Linked DNA regions of Homo sapiens: region 2 is linked to region 1. The links come from fine-mapping of genetic effects on gene expression. A gene starts in region 1. The other region holds a variant in brackets. All regions are shown on one strand. Distances are from middle to middle.

Region 1 (2,914 bases):
GGGAGGCTGAGACAGGATAATCGCTTGAATGAAGGAGGCAGAAATTGCAGTGAGCCAAGATAGTGCCACTGCACTCCAGCCTGGGTAACAGAGTGAGACTCCATCTCAAAAAAAAAAAAAAAAATGCCGCGGTGGCTCACACCTGTAACCCCAGCACTTTGGGAGGCTGAGGTGGGCAGATCACTTGAGGTCAGGAGTTCAAGACCTGCCTGGCCAACATGGTGAAACCCCATCTCTACTAAAAATACAAAAATTAGCTGGGTGTGGTGGCACGTGCCTGTAATCCCAGCTACTTGGGAGGCTGAGGCAGGAAAATCGCTTGAACCCAGGAGGCAGGGGTTGCAGTGGTCAGATAGCCCCACTGAACTCCAGCCTGGGCAACAGAGAGAGATTCCATCTCAAAAAAACCAAAACCAAAAAACCAATAAAACAAAAAACAAAAATGACGAAAAAAGACTTCTAACCCTGACCAGACCAGATTATTTTGAATGAAATCTCTTTCTCTGTTCCATGAGCAGTTCTGTGTGTAGGGAGATCAGTCCCTGTGCATAGTGATTTAATCTGGTTTCTGTCTTCTCAGCTCAGAGTTTTTGATAGGGCTTTCACCTAGGCCACAGAGAAAGAACCAAATGATAGGGGATCCCGGAGGGGGAAGGAAAGACCCAAACATTTGAATGGCCTAATGAGCAAATCACATTTCTCTGGGTCTGTTTCCTTATCCATAAGTGAAAAAGTTTGGTGTATGTGATCTCTGGGGTACTGCTCAGCTCTTGACACTCTGTGGTTCTGGGTAGTAGTTGAAAGCAGCTCTCCTCTTCCTGAATTCTCCATCCTTGGACTGGACCTCTCGTCTGTTTATACCTTGCTGTGCAGTTTGTTTCTCCTGGGCGTCATTTCTTCTTCAATTTCCTCAAATCCTACTTGCTTCTTAGCTCCTTCATATCCTCTTTGTTTTCTTTGCTTCTGCAGAACCCCAGATTACACCCCTGGTCTCCAGTTCTCCATCTCCATGTCTGCCTGTTCCTTTCTGCATCACTGGCTCCTAACTCAAGCAATCTCCTTGGGTTTCTCTGAGGGGCCCCTGGGATCCCCTATCATTAGTCCCTCTCACAGAAGCATACCCTTCTCCAGAGCTAAAGGATCAGATATTCAGCGGCTCAGGTAACAAACCTGCTGTCAGGTTACACATATTGTTTCCTGAAAGACCACACTACAGTGTCAGTGGAGCCTCAGGTTGCCTGCAGTGCCCTGCCCTCACCTGGCTATCCCACACAGGTGAGAATAACCAGAACTCACCTCCGGTACCAGTGTTCACTTGGAAACATGGCTCTCAGCCTCTGGCCCCTGCTGCTGCTGCTGCTGCTGCTGCTGCTGCTGTCCTTTGCAGGTAAGAAGAACAGTGAGCAGAACTGGGGATGAGGAGGAGGGTGGCTGGAAAAAGACTTTAAGAATATGGAGGTGAACCTGTTAGATAGAAGGACAAAGGAGAGAGGCAGAGACTTGTGCAAAAGGGAAAAATGAGGGTTAAGAAAAGCAGGCCAAGACTTACTGTAGGCCAGTGAAAGGGGTTCAGCTCACCATCCCCTCACCTCATCTTTAGATCCAGGTAGGGAACTGTGCTCAGGGGCAGGGTTGAGTTTGGGCTCTGTGTTCCTCTCCTTCAGTGACCTCTGGTTTCTCTCCTTACAGTGACTCTGGCCCCTACTGGGCCTCATTCCCTGGACCCTGGTCTCTCCTTCCTGAAGTCATTGCTCTCCACTCTGGACCAGGCTCCCCAGGGCTCCCTGAGCCGCTCACGGTTCTTTACATTCCTGGCCAACATTTCTTCTTCCTTTGAGCCTGGGAGAATGGGGGAAGGACCAGTAGGAGAGCCCCCACCTCTCCAGCCGCCTGCTCTGCGGCTCCATGATTTTCTAGTGACACTGAGAGGTAGCCCCGACTGGGAGCCAATGCTAGGGCTGCTAGGGGATATGCTGGCACTGCTGGGACAGGAGCAGACTCCCCGAGATTTCCTGGTGCACCAGGCAGGGGTGCTGGGTGGACTTGTGGAGGTGCTGCTGGGAGCCTTAGTTCCTGGGGGCCCCCCTACCCCAACTCGGCCCCCATGCACCCGTGATGGGCCGTCTGACTGTGTCCTGGCTGCTGACTGGTTGCCTTCTCTGCTGCTGTTGTTAGAGGGCACACGCTGGCAAGCTCTGGTGCAGGTGCAGCCCAGTGTGGACCCCACCAATGCCACAGGCCTCGATGGGAGGGAGGCAGCTCCTCACTTTTTGCAGGGTCTGTTGGGTTTGCTTACCCCAACAGGGGAGCTAGGCTCCAAGGAGGCTCTTTGGGGCGGTCTGCTACGCACAGTGGGGGCCCCCCTCTATGCTGCCTTTCAGGAGGGGCTGCTCCGTGTCACTCACTCCCTGCAGGATGAGGTCTTCTCCATTTTGGGGCAGCCAGAGCCTGATACCAATGGGCAGTGCCAGGGAGGTGAGTGTGGCCAGGGCTGGGACTGGGATGTGGCAGGGCAAGGAAAGTGAAATTGGGGTAGTTTTCTTCCTTACTCTTTCCCTCCTAGGTAACCTTCAACAGCTGCTCTTATGGTAAGTAACAGGAGACCAGTTCTGAGGGATTGGGCCTGGAAAATCTGGAGGTGAAGAGCTGAAGACCTCAGCCTCTAGAGAGGAAAACTGATGGGAGGAGTGTAGTTTAGTGGTTTTGGGGTGTGACTGTCTGGGTTGGTGTCCCAGCTCCACCTCTTCCTAGCCATATGACCTTGAGCAGGTTACATAGTCTTTCTATACCTCAGTTTCCCCATTTATAAAATGAGAATGATAATATTAGTTACCACAGAGTTGTTGCACCCGGTTAAATGAGTTGATACTGTGTATGCAAACGACTTAAAACCGTGCTGGCACATAGCGCTTAA
Region 2 (2,914 bases), 120 kb before region 1:
TCTGCACATTCTGTGCTGCTGAGGCAATTTCTGCTATTCGTTCCTCTGAACTTCCTTGGGTTTGTTTAGCTTCTATAAAATTATTCATTTTTCCAGAGAGTAAAAGTGCTACTGCTTCTATAATTTGGACTTCCCTACTTAAACTATTTTAAACTACTCAAAACTATATTCTGCTTTACAAGAGCCTTATTTTACTTCATTGCTCTGTTTGGGTTCCTGTTTTGCAAGGGCAAAAACTGAATAAAAATTATAGCATTCTATTTTCCAGCCACAAATGTGGTCCTCAGCTCTTTCTAATTATATAATCCCATGCTCCTGAGAGCTAGAATTTATTGTTAAGTGAAAAAATTTTGTATTTTATTGAATTTAAGCTGTCATCAATGGTGAAATTCACTGTTTACCAATAAGAAATAAAAATCATGCTCAATTAAACTGGGACACATCGCTGGTTGTAAAATGCATCCTCACTTTGGGAGGCCGAGGTGGGCAGATCACGAGGTCTAGAGATAGAGACCATCCTGGCCAACATGGTGAAACCCCGTCTCTACCAAAAATAATAAAATTAGCTGGGCATGGTGGCGCAGAGGCAGAGGTTGCAGTAAGCTGAGATTGCACCACTGCACTCCAGCCTGGAAACAGAGCGAGATTCCATCTCAAAAAAAAAAAAAAAAAAAAAAAGCATCCTAATTTCATGGATGTTAAAATGTGAAATATTGTCCATCTTAGAGAAATGTGCATGAAAGAAAAACTTACGGAAGAAGTACAGAGCCTAAATAAGCATAGGAGTGCTGGGTGCAGTGGCTCATGCCTATAACCCCAGCACTTTGGGAGACCAAGGCCGGAGGATCGCTTGAGCCCAGGAGTTTGAGGCCAACCTGGGCAGCATAGGGAGACCCCATCTCTACAAGTAATTTAAAGAAAAAATTAGCTGGGCATGGTGACATGTGCCTGTGGTCCCAGTTACCCAGAGGCTCTTGAGCCCGGAAGATCCAGGCTTCCGCGAACTGTGATTATGCCACTGCACTCCTCCAGCCTGGGTGACAGAGTGAGACTCTGTCTCAAAACAAGCATAGGAATAAGTATAGTGTAACCCCATTGGTTTTTAGAAGGGGCCAACCTCTGTAAAATTCTAGGGATGATCGAAGTATGGTTCTGTTCTTTTTGTCTGGATCCAGTTCAGCATCAGGATGAATTTAAAGCCAGAGCACCACAATGTTGATTTCTATTTAGCTCTTAAGCCATTTTAATTTCAGTGTTTTTTTTTCTAGAGCATGGCATACATCCATTAATTGTATAAAAGAGATGAAGAAGGTTGAAAGAGAAAGGCAATGAATTAAGGAATAGCAATTGGTAAATAATAAGGTTCTAGAGAGGAAGTATGCATTCAATTTGCTTTGCAGAACAAAACCAATTTTAGGCAGGGAAGAAAGGAAAAGTTTTAAAAGAAAGCTAACAGAACCAAGTGATTTATTGTTATAATTCGATATACCCTAATGATTGTGGCTTGTTTCTACATTCGTTATAAAGTAGTTCAGATATCATGGCCCTGTATTTTCATTCTGTTCTCAAGACCCATTGCTTTCTTGTGAACTTTGGGACTGAGATAACAGTACAGTAGATGGGGGTGGGGG[G/A]TTGGAGGTAGGGGTAATTAAAGAGAGTAGTCTCTTAGTAGCTGTGTGAGCCCCAGAGTGGATCGCAAGTGACTTGTAGCTGGGCAGACATAACTATATGAACAGATTGGTTGTGGCTGTGTTTTATGGTCAATTCTGTCCTTCCCTGTATTTCACAGGTTGAAGCAACAGTGTTAAGAAGAGAAACTCTTAACTCTTAACACAGTGTGAAGAAAAATGGAACAGTAGTGGGCAAAACTGTGGTTTATAAGTGTGTTCATTCTCCATCATTCGGTTTCCAGCTTCCTTAACTTTTATTCCTCCTTTGCTCTATCCTCACAGAATTGCTGGAATCCACAAATACCAAACTATGGCCATTGAAGCTGACCTTGGAGGGGGCAGCTTGGTTTATCTTGCTTATTTTCATCCTGGAGATCCTTCTTAAGTGGCTATCCAACTTTTCTGTTTTCTGGAAGAGTGCCTGGAATGTCTTTGACTTTGTTGTTACCATGTTGGTAAGGATAGAGATCCTGAGGGTTCGTTTAGTGGGATGAAGAATGTGCCTAGGTGAATCGAAAGAACAAGTTAACATGATAATAGGAAGAAACAAAAATTTACTTAACTTCTTTCTTTTGATTTTTTTTTCCTAAAACTAAACATCAATCATTGCAGGAGTTGTTGGTATTAGGAGCAAAGTAGACTAACTACAACATCAATGCCAACAAGAGCATCTGCCGGTTACTGAGCACTTACTAAGTGCCAAGCACTATTTTAAGTGTTTTCCTTACATTATCTCATTTATGCTCCACAACAACCTAATTAAATAACCATGAATTTTATCCCCCTTTTTATATCTGAACAAGTTGAAGTATAGTGTTTAAGCAACTTAATATAGAAAGGCTGAATAGTAAGCACTTCTCAGAGAATGCTATTCAAAGGATAACGCCCAGGGAACAATGAAGAGGATAAGATGAAGAAGCTGCAATTCTGCCTGGGTGCCTTGGGGTGTATTTTACTTATAACCTGTGTGTTTTCCACAGTCCCTGCTTCCCGAGGTTGTGGTATTGGTAGGGGTAACAGGCCAATCGGTGTGGCTTCAGCTTCTGAGGATCTGCCGGGTGCTGAGGTCTCTCAAACTCCTTGCACAATTCCGTCAAATTCGAGTTATTATTTTGGTCCTGGTCAGGGCCCTCAAGGTGATTTGACTGTTGCAAGCTAAAGCAGGGGGCAAGGTAGATAAATGTGAGGGCTTAACATAGAATATGAAACAAATTGGCCGGGTGCGGTGGCTCATGCCTGTAATC

The links. PIP is the estimated chance that this variant, and not a neighbour inherited with it, causes the effect. A credible set is the group of variants that fine-mapping cannot tell apart.
Region 2: its variant is the best candidate, but not a certain one, in a credible set for the expression of STRC in whole blood (TOPMed, PIP 0.58).

Annotation. Positions count from the first base shown.
Region 1 is chr15:43,617,132-43,620,045 of GRCh38, reverse strand. It overlaps STRC (stereocilin), which reads left to right and starts at 1,246. Exons shown (of 29, transcript NM_153700.2): 1 at 1,246-1,387; 2 at 1,690-2,475; 3 at 2,564-2,588. The coding sequence starts at 1,324.
Region 2 is chr15:43,736,047-43,738,960 of GRCh38, reverse strand. It overlaps the pseudogene CATSPER2P1. Among named protein-coding and RNA genes, the nearest start is that of PDIA3, 8.9 kb to the left of the region's middle. The variant G/A (reference allele first, on the strand shown) is at 1,632.